Linked DNA regions of Homo sapiens: region 2 is reported to be linked to region 1. The links are microRNA targets in miRTarBase. Many come from high-throughput screens and were not tested one by one. Region 1 holds a microRNA gene; the other region holds the end of a gene's coding sequence.

Region 1 (5,368 bases):
AGGTAAGGATTAGTGATTGGAAGGAAATATGAAGGGAATTGTGAGGATGGATGAATTTCTGTTTCTTGATTAGGGTGTTTATGTGCAATTTTTGAAGTCATCAAACTGTATACTTATAATATTTGCTCTTTTCTTCATATTCTACCTCAATAAAAATGTGAACATATGCATGAACATACATACCCAGATACGTATGTGCCTGAGTGTGTGTGTGCGCGTGTGTGTGTGTACAGGCATATAAGTTTGTAAATTTAATCCAGTATCAAAACTCAATGAAAACCCATTTTTTTCTAACGTGGCTGTGACTAATTATTTAAGGATTGCAAACTTACTAAACAGTCCAAAATCTTTCAAACCAATTTAAATCAAAGCATAATATTATCGAAAGATTTAAATTTATGCATCACTTTTCCGTGATGGAATGCTAAGTAGATCCTATCCAATGCTTACTTCAGATCCACTTCATTTCCAAAATGCCACTGAAGCATAAGTTAATTAAATTACATAGATTCTAGGCAGTGATGGGAAAAGTAATATTTGATTAAGTGCATATGCCTGCAAAAATCCCTCCGTTGCCATACGTGCTGATACATCAGCTGCTTAACTGCTGGCATTTTTAATCTATCCAAAAGGAAGACATATTTAAGTAGGTTAGTTATTCCTTGGCTTGTGAAGTGCTATCATTTTTGTTGTTTGCTAATAGTCCTGTAAGGCAGAATTCATTCAAAGCCAGACAGGAAATGCAATGACATAAAACCTGGTATTTAGAGTGCATATGCTCAGAATTCACAGCGATACTGTGTCGTAGGTGGTGGTTTCTTGCAGGCATTGCATTTCTCTTGATTCATGATAATGTTTGAAGCTTTGAAAGTGAAATTGACTAAAATTAATTCTACTTGTGAAACTGCCCTCCGGAAAACTGTTCATGTCTATGTGTATCAATGTGCTAACATAGCAATAGCATTTAAAGGCTTGACAATAAAGGCAGTTACTAACAAATAAAACATTAGAAAGGGCTTTTTTAACAAGTAAATTTCAGGGGAATGGTTTCAAGTTTAGACAGAATTATATACAAGTTCCCAGATGTTCATATAAATATTAATATATCAGTTATTTTCTATTTGACTCAATTATGCACAAATCAGCACATAATAATTTAATCAAGCTCTTCATCTCTCTTTGACAATACATTGCATCATGGAGTAGAGAAAGAATGTGAAATTCAAGGTGGCTAGTCTACTGCTAAACTCTGATGAAATGACACAGAATAATGATTTAACCACCAAACTAAGAAAAATCCTTCATTTTCATGTACATTTTACCTATGTCCATTCACTTATCTAATGATCCTATACATATTTATCAAGTATTAGTATGTGCAGGGCTATGTCTTCGTTGCTAGAGATACATCTTGTGACTCACCAATTCTCTGTCCTCATGGAGTTTCTATTCTAACGGGGAAACAGAATACTGGCAGAAAACAAACCAGTAAATACATCATGTGTCAGATATTGATGAGACACGTGGAGAAGAATTAGGCAAGGTAATTTGCATAAAAATTGTGAGATGAGATGGAGTGCTGATGTTGTTATTTTAGTTGAGGGATATGGACAGGGTTACTCGAAAGGTGGTATTGGAGTAGATAACTGAAGGAAGTGAGAGATACCCACGTGGATACCTGAGGCAGGGCTGCTCTCAGAAACTCACCTAGAGTTTGCCATTAAGCTTGCCATTACTACTTTCAGAAGAACTCAGAATATTAATTTACTTTCTCCACATTCCCTACAGTATGGATGAAGAAATATCACCACGTTCTTTTGTTTGTCTAGACACACAAAATATCTACAGTAGTTGGAGGTACAGACAGAGCTGGGACTAAGGCTTGATTCACCTATTCATAAGCCAGGAAGGAACTCTTGGTTGAATGTAAAAAACAAAAAATATGGTCATATTGCAAACAGAAAAAAAAAAAGTCAGCTTCTAAAAGGATAAAATATAGGGCAAGTTTCTTGGCAGGATTTTAAATGATTCTGTGGAACTTCATTATGACATATTTGTCCCTAAACATTATATGTAAGTTTTTATTTTTAACATGTGCTTCTTCCTCTTAGAATGTCTGTTTACATACTCTTCTTGTGCATTTTAAAAAATTTATCTATAATGTGCAGTTAAACTTTTCAGCGCATTGTTTCCCGAAAACTCCAAGCTGAATTGTTCTCGGTTCTTTGTGAATTATTAGGTCAGTGCAAAAGTAATTGCGGGTTTTGCCGTTGCTTTTAATGGTAAAACCCACAATTATGTTTGTACCAGCCTGATCCTAAGCAATCTCATTATCGTCTAGATTCTGCCACTTTTCATTGTATTATTATATCTATTTTTTCACTAACAGAAATAATTTTTAGTGTCCCTAATGTTTAGTGTTGTGCATATTTTAAAATCTTAATGTTTTCCAAATAAATAAATGAACACGAGATTAACTTACAGGTAGAAAAATGTATAAAACCTCATCAAAAATGATGGCTCTCTAATCAGTATCCTTGCTATACATTGTAAAGGGACATTAAGTATCCACCCAGCCTTTAGAGGTGGAAGACTGGCTCTACCACTTAATGGTTGTATAATAGTAAACACTTTGGTAAGCCTCAGTATCCTGAGTTCTAAAATAAACATATAAATGGTGTTTGTCCCAGTGGTCTGTTTAGGGTCACAGTGACTAACGTATATAAAAGATATAAAAGTGTTTTGTAAATTTTAAAGTGTTTTTCACCTCTTCATTTTTATGACTAATTCTAATATTATCTTATATTTGAAAAGCATAGGGACATAGGAAGGAATTAACCGTGTAACAGATAATGAACTAAAAATTTTCTTAAAAATAATTGACTGAAAAGATATATTGGGTTGAACCTATACTAGTATAAATAGTAGTTCAATAAATCCAAGCTAATTATTGGAGGCAAGAAAACTACAGTGGAAATCTTTGTACTTATCATGAAAGAAGCCTTGTAAAATTTATACAGGAATAACTGTCAACTCCATCACATGCAGGGGGTACAGAATGAGGTAGAACAAAGACAGATACCTATGGAAACTGAGAAGGACTCAGATGGTCTCGTTACTATATGGAACCAAGTTTCTGCTTAGTGACAAATCAGAAATTTATTATGTTTTCTTGTCAGGAGATGTGTACTCAATTGCTGATTATTTCAGAATTAAACCTATGCTAATGGTTTACTATCAGATCCATGTTAATTAAAAATTTAAACTTGAAAATGATTCTGAGATGTCCTTGATATGTGAAGTGCTATTTTAATTTGTTTTGAAACATTCTCCATAATTACAAGCTATACAGAAAAAAAGATCTGATTTTTTTAGTCTTCAAGTCCACAAAAATAGGGACTAATAAAGAAAAGGAAGAACCAGAATTACTTTATATAATTCAGTCAACTTTTTGACACACTTGTAAAACTATTATATTTTAGAAATGTGCAATTAATAGGCATTTTCATGTTTTATACACATATTAAGATGGGTAGTTTTTGTTTTGATGCTATAGAAACATATTTGATCAATATTTTCTCATGGTAAAGCAAAGATTTTCTCAACACACATCGGCAGCACGTTCTTCACATTCATTTGGTCAGGAGATTTTTGTGAATAAATGGGATTTCACATTTATTCTTATATTCATAATAAAATATAAGAATTAGTGCACTTGGCCAACCGTGTAGATTATCCACTTCAGCATTTTGCCTCTGACAAGCAACAAGAAATATATTGTCGAATGTACTGTCTTCTACCTGAATATTACTCTAAAAATTAAGCAGTACATGCCCAAACTGTTGATTTTTTTCAGACTACTCCAAATTCAAACTGTGTCAATTCTGACTAGAAAACCAAACCTCATAAAATTATTATACTATGTCAAGTAATATTTCTTTTTATTTGCCCTCAGTTTTCTTCTCTGTTGGTTCAAAGGAGATTCTTGTTAACTGAATTCAGTTGAAATATATCCTTAGCCTTCATAATTGCAGAATCATTCTTTCTTCAGCTTCACAGTTTTTTTTATCTTTTCAGTCTAGAGTCTACATCATTTAAGTCTGTCCCCAAAAGGCAGACTCTGTCCCTTTGATGTTTTTTGCATGCTGTGATCTGGACCTCAAAACCTTTCATTTTATCATTCTTGTGCAACAATACATATAGAAGAAGCAGGTATAGACTCAGTATTTTGCAGAAGAAAAGCATTTTGTGTGTGTATATGTTTTAACAAATTATATACATTTCTAATGATGTCAATGTTGTGATTTTTAATTTAAAAAATTAAGACCATTTTGAATAGAGTAACACATTAATTTTCTTTTTTTCTTTTTTTTTAACAATGAGAACACTTGGACACAGGAAGGGGAACATCACACACAGTGCCTGTTGTGGGGTGGGAGAGGGGGGAGGGATAGCAATAGGAGATATACCTAATGTAAATGAGGAGTTAATGGGTGCAGCACACTAACATGGCACATGTATACATATGAAACAAACCTGCACATTGTGCACATGTACCCTAGAACTTAAAGTATAATAAAAATATATAAAAAAAGAGAAAATACAGAATCAAGAAATAAATAAATAAAAATAAAACAAAACAAAAAAAGTAACACATTAATTTTCTTAAGAAAGTAATTCCCTAAACCATAAAAATGTCCTGGTAAATATGTAATCAAAGAGATGATATTATAAGCAAAAAAGTAAAACTAGAACAATCAAATAAACACAATGCTAGGGTAATGTTCTTCTTCCTTAGGAAAGCCAGGTGAATAAAAATGAATATTCATGAATTTGTTGAATCTTGAAACAATTTTTAGCATCTCAGAAATAAATTTGCCTTTTTTATAAATGCAATGCCTAGTAATCTCCAACTGTTGTCCAGTCAGTTATTTGTATCCACTAGTGACTGTCTCAAAATTCTCCTTGACTTCTTATCAGGAAGATGGGGAATAATTTTTTTCCATCTGATAGGTGTGGAACAAAGCAGCCTCACCCTGAGGCTGACTTCAGTATGTCAAACAAATGGCTGTTCTCTCACAAATAAATGACAATAAGCCTGTTGGTTGCTTTCTGAATTCACACTGATAGGGCTCCCTTCCAGGGCCCTGAGTGTGCAGCTGTTCCTTCTTAACACAGACTCAACAGGTTCATGACATTATTTTTTAATGGAGTTTCTATAGAAATTATGTTTTAAAAATTCTCATCTGCATGAGATATGTTTGAATCTCATATATTGACATGTACACATTAATTTAAAATTAGAACTTTTCAGCATTAAAGAGGGACAAGCATTAAATATTGTACATTAATTTATATACATTGACAG
Region 2 (5,000 bases), not on the chromosome of region 1:
GCCTCCACCTCCCGAGCAGCTGGGACTACAGGTGCGAGCCAACTTGCCTGGCTAATTTTTGTATTTCTTATAGAGATGAGGTCTTACCTTGTTGCCTGGCTGGTCTTGAACTCCTGGTCTCAAGAAATCCCACCCAAAGTGCTGGAATTATAGACTGCTGCACCATGCCGAGTTTAATTTTTTTTGAGACAGTTTTGCTCTTTTGCCCAAGCTGGAGTGCAATGGCGTGATCTTGGCTCACTGCAACCTCTGCCTCCAGGATCAAGTGATTCTCCTGCCTCAGCCACCCAAGTAACTGGAATTACAGGTGTGCACCACCACACCCAGCTAATTTTGTATTTTTAATAGAGATGGGTTTTCATCATGTTGGCCAGGCTGGTCTCGAACTGCTGACCTCAGGTGATCCGCCCACCTTGGCCTCCCAAAATGCTGAGATTATAGGCATGAGCCACCATGCCCGGCCCCAACTTTAATTTTTAAAGCAATTGTAGGTTCACAGAAAAATTGAACACAAAGTAGAGCTAATTCTCATACACTCCCTGCCCCCACGTGTGCATGGCCTCCTCTGCTATGAACATTCCACATCATTATGGTACTGTGTTAGAACTGATGAACCTGCATTGATACATAATCACCCAAAGTCCATAGTCTACATTAGGGCTCACCCTTGGTGTTGTACATTTACATTCTGTGGGTTTTGACAAGTATATAATGACATGTATTCACCATTGTGGTATCACAGAATAGTTTCACTGCCTAAACATCTTGTGCTCTGCCTATTCATCCCTCCTCCTTCTCTAACCCCTTGCAACCGCTGATATTTCTGTCTCCATGGTTTTGCCTTTTCCACAATGTCAGATAGTTGTTAATTATGCATGTAGCATTTTCTTTCTTTCTTTTTTTTTTTTTTTTTTTTGAGACGGAGTCTCACTGTGTCGCCCAGGCTGGAGTGCAGTGGCACAATCTCAGCTCACTGCAAGCTCCGCCTCCCGGGTTCATGCCATTCTCCTGCCTCAGCCTCCCTAGTAGCTGGGACTACAGGTGCCCGCCACCACGCCCAGCTAATTTTTTTTTTTTGTATTTTTAATAGAGACGGGGTTTCACCGCGTTAGCCAGGATGGTCTCGATCTCCTGACCTCATGATCTGCCTGCCTCAGCCTCCCAAAGTGCTGGGATTACAGGTGTGAGCCACCACGCCTGGCCGCATATAGCATTTTCAGATTGGCTTCTTTACTTAGTAGTGTGCATTTAAGGTTCTTCCATGTCTTCTCATGGCTTGAAATCTCATTTCTTTTTAGCGCTGATTATTCCATTGTCTGGTTGTATCACAATTTGTTTATCCGTTCACCTACTAAAGGAAATCTTAGTTGCCTCCAAATTTTGGCACTTATGAGTAAAGCTGCTATAAACATCTGCATGCAGGGTTTTGTGTGGACATGATTTCAACTCATTGGGTAATTATTATGGAGCACAATTGCTGGACCATATAGTAAGGGTATGTTTAGTTTTGTAAGGTTGCTGTACCATTTTGTATTCCCACCAGCAATAAAAGAAAGTTCCTGTTGCTCCACATCCTTGAGAGCATTTGGTGTTATCAGTGTCGTAGATTTTGGTCATTCTAATAGGTGTGTATTGGTATCCCATTGTTGTTTCAGTTTGCATTTCCCTGATGACATATGATGTGGAACATCTTTTCATATGCTTATTTGCCATCTGTATCTCCTCTTTGGTGAGGTGTCCAGGACTTTTGCCCATTTTTAAATCAAATTTTTTGTCCCTTATTAAGTATTTTTTGTATATTTTAGATAGCAGTCCTTTATCAGCTATGTCATCACCACCATCTAGATCTTCTCCTATGTTATCTTCTGAAAGTTTTGTAGTTTTGCATTTTACATGTAGGCCTATGATCTATTTTGAATTAATTTTTGTGAAGGGTACAGGGTATGTAACTAGATTTCTTTGCATGTGGATGTCCAGTTGTTCCAGCACCATTTGTTGAAAAGACTATCTTTTCTCCATTGTATTGCTTTTGCTCCTTTGTCAAAGATCAGTTGACTGTATTTATATGGGCCTATTTCTGGGTTCTCTATCCTGTTCCACTGATCTGTCTTTTTTGCCAGTAGCATACTGTCATGATTACTGTAGTTTTATAGTAAGTCTCAAAGGTAGTGTTAGTTTTCTGACTTTGTTGTTCTCCTTTAATATTGTGTTGGCTATTCTGTCTTTGGCTTTTTTATAACCTTTAGAATAAGTTTAATATCCACAAAATAACTTTCTGGGATATTGATTGGGATTGCATTGAATCAATAGATCAAGTTGGAAAGAACCGCCATCTAAACAATATTGAGCCTTCCTATTAATGAATATGAAATATATCTTCATTTGTTTAGTTCTTTGGTTTATTTAATCATTTTTGCAGTTGTCCTCATATAGATCTTAGATACATTTTACTAGGTTTATACCTAAGTATTTTATTTTGGGGGTGCTACTATGAATAGTATTGTTTTTAATTTCAAATTCCACTGTTTGTGGCTGATATATAGGAAAACGGTTGACATTTTTTAGAGACAGGGTCTTGCTGTGTTGCCCAGACTGGAGTGCAGTAGCTATTCATGCAGCAATCATAGCTCACTGCAGCCTCAAAACTCCTGGCTTCAAGTAATCCTCCTGCTTCAGCCTCCTGAGTAGCTGGGACTACAGATACATGCCACTGCACCTGGTTTGATTGACTTTTGTATACTAACCTTGTATCCTGCAAGCCTTTATAATCACTTATTAGTTCTATTATTGTTGTTGTCAATTCTTCTGGGTTTTCTACATAGACAATCATTGCATCAGTAAACAAAGACAGTTCTATTCCTTCCTTCTCAATATTTATACCTTTTATTTCCTTTTCTTGTCTCACTGCATTGGCTAGGACTTCCAGTACAACTAGGACTTCCAGTGCAATGTTGAAAAGGAATAGTAAGAGAAGACGTCCTCGCCTTATTCCTGATCTTAATGGGAAAGCTTCTAATTTCTCATTATTAAGTATATGATGTTAGCTGTGGTTTTTTTGTTAGCTCATTTCTTTATCTAGTTGAAGTTCTCTATTCCTAGTTTCCTGAGAATTTTTATCATGAATGGGGTTATTTTGTCAAATGCTTTCTCTGCTATTGATAAAATTCATGTAATTTTTCTTCTTTAGAAATGTTATTTTCAAATGTTGAACCAGCTTTTCATACCTGGGATAAATCCCACTTGGTCATGGTTGAAATTAAATTTTTTAATACTAACAATAAAATTGATAATTTATATATTTGTAGGTGCTTAAAATTTTACTAAACCCCAAAATCCCATTAATGGCTCCTAAAACCTCACTTTTATGAATTTAATTCTGATTTTTTTGGGCCAAGAATTTCTCAGAACAAGTACTCCTTCAGGAATTTGAAATCTCCCAATTTATCAAAATATTAGTATACTTTTCAGAGATCCACCCCCAAATTCATATATTCTGTCTATACATGCAAACACATAATTTACACCAATATTTTACGGTTAGATTGGTATAAAACAGTAGTCTCAGAACAGGGTACAAAATGTCTTTATATCTTCAATCTCATTATACAGCAAAAGAGGGAGGAGGAAAAAACTAGGAGACATAGATAGATACACTGATGGATGTTTCAAAAATTATTTTTATTGTTACATTCCAAAGAGGACATAGGAAGAAAAAAGCCAGTTATCCAATAATGGTTAGACCTTTCAGAAGAGGCACCCACAACCCCAGCCCTAGTTCAAAGCTGCACACATTGGAGCTCAAACAGCTGCCTCTCACCACGACCGGAAATGCTGACAAATGTGTATATATTATCAATCCAGGGAGGCTTGGGTTTAAAATAAAATTTCTTTATTGCAAGTGTCCAAGTCCTTAGGATTTGTCCTTAAAGGTACTAGAAGATGAGTAAGACCACACACACCAAGACTATGTTTAGTCTTTAGAGTAAACTAGCAAATGGCCAGTTTGTTCTAGGATGCATTGCATCAGACATCACAGTACATGAAGAAAATCTGCTTTTTGTGAAAAGCCACCAGGCATTTTAGATCCCGTTTACCATGAAGTGCAGACACAGCAGATACCCAGATAATACAGTCAGTGCAAAAGTCAAATGAGTAAGTCAGCTCTTTGATGAGGCTGGCTACACTGCAAAATATAAATGAAACTCGAAAATAGAAGGTAAGGTCTATTTACAAAAGTTTGTTTAGTAAAGTGACTTGAAAAAAGTTGTTAACCACTTCCCAGGCATCCCTCCCCTCTCCCACCAAAACAAACAAACAAAAAACAACAACAACAAAAACCCTGAAAATTATCTTGAAAGTCAAGTTAAAACTATGTGGTGAAAAAGAGAGTGCTTGTTCCAGGTAAAGGACTTCAAGATAATTTACAGGCAGATTTATTTTTATTAGTAAAAGTCACAAATAGGAAAAGACTTATTGGCTGACTTTGAGCTGTGTGCTTTTAAAAATGTCTCTATTATTACGTTAACAAGAAAAAAAAATCAAGCAAGTTTTTGCTTCCAGTTTTGAATCTTCCAGCAACAGTTGGTGAAATCAACAAGGTATTAAAATGAAACCCAGCAAAACCCAGTCAGTTCTTTCCAGTTGTCTGCCTGTTTCTTTCTAGTCACCTTGAATTCAATTCCCAATTAGCTGAGGACAACATGCCGGTCAAAGACAGACTTTCGCTGCTCTTGGACTTGAAGCTTCCAGCGCTGCTGTGCATATTCTACCTTGTTCAGCACGTTGGCTCGACTGCGGGAGCGGGCTAGCACATCGTGTGCATTTGCAAAAGGCTGGTGATCCTAAAAGTCCAGGAATGGAGAACATTAGAGATGGCACAGTCAGTGTAAAACATAGACACACAACAGTGACCAGCCCGCCACAGAAATAGGGGTAGGTGGACTTTTCAAACAACAGAGCATCTATTTAGCTAAGCACTCCTAAGCGCTCAACTACCAGAT

Evidence for each region. Region 1 holds the annotated microRNA hsa-miR-548as-3p (UAAAACCCACAAUUAUGUUUGU, at 2,284-2,305, shown strand). A microRNA usually pairs through its seed, bases 2 to 8, with sites in the 3' UTR of a target mRNA and lowers its output. Matches are read on the target gene's strand: a 7mer-m8 pairs with bases 2 to 8, a 7mer-A1 pairs with bases 2 to 7 and ends in A, and an 8mer does both.
Region 2: miRTarBase lists TMEM9B as a target of hsa-miR-548as-3p. Seed matches in the 3' UTR shown: 7mer-m8 at 4,619-4,625 and 7mer-m8 at 4,334-4,340.

What each region holds. Positions count from the first base shown.
Region 1 is chr13:92,487,916-92,493,283 of GRCh38, forward strand. It overlaps MIR548AS (microRNA 548as), which reads left to right and starts at 2,248; the gene lies at 2,248-2,305. All of the region lies in intron 7 of GPC5 (glypican 5), which reads left to right. All of the region lies in intron 1 of GPC5-IT1 (GPC5 intronic transcript 1), which reads left to right.
Region 2 is chr11:8,943,635-8,948,634 of GRCh38, forward strand. TMEM9B (TMEM9 domain family member B) reads right to left here. Exons shown (of 5, transcript NM_020644.3): 5 at 3,568-4,841. The coding sequence ends at 4,686. Among named protein-coding and RNA genes, the nearest start is that of ASCL3, 3.1 kb to the left of the region's middle.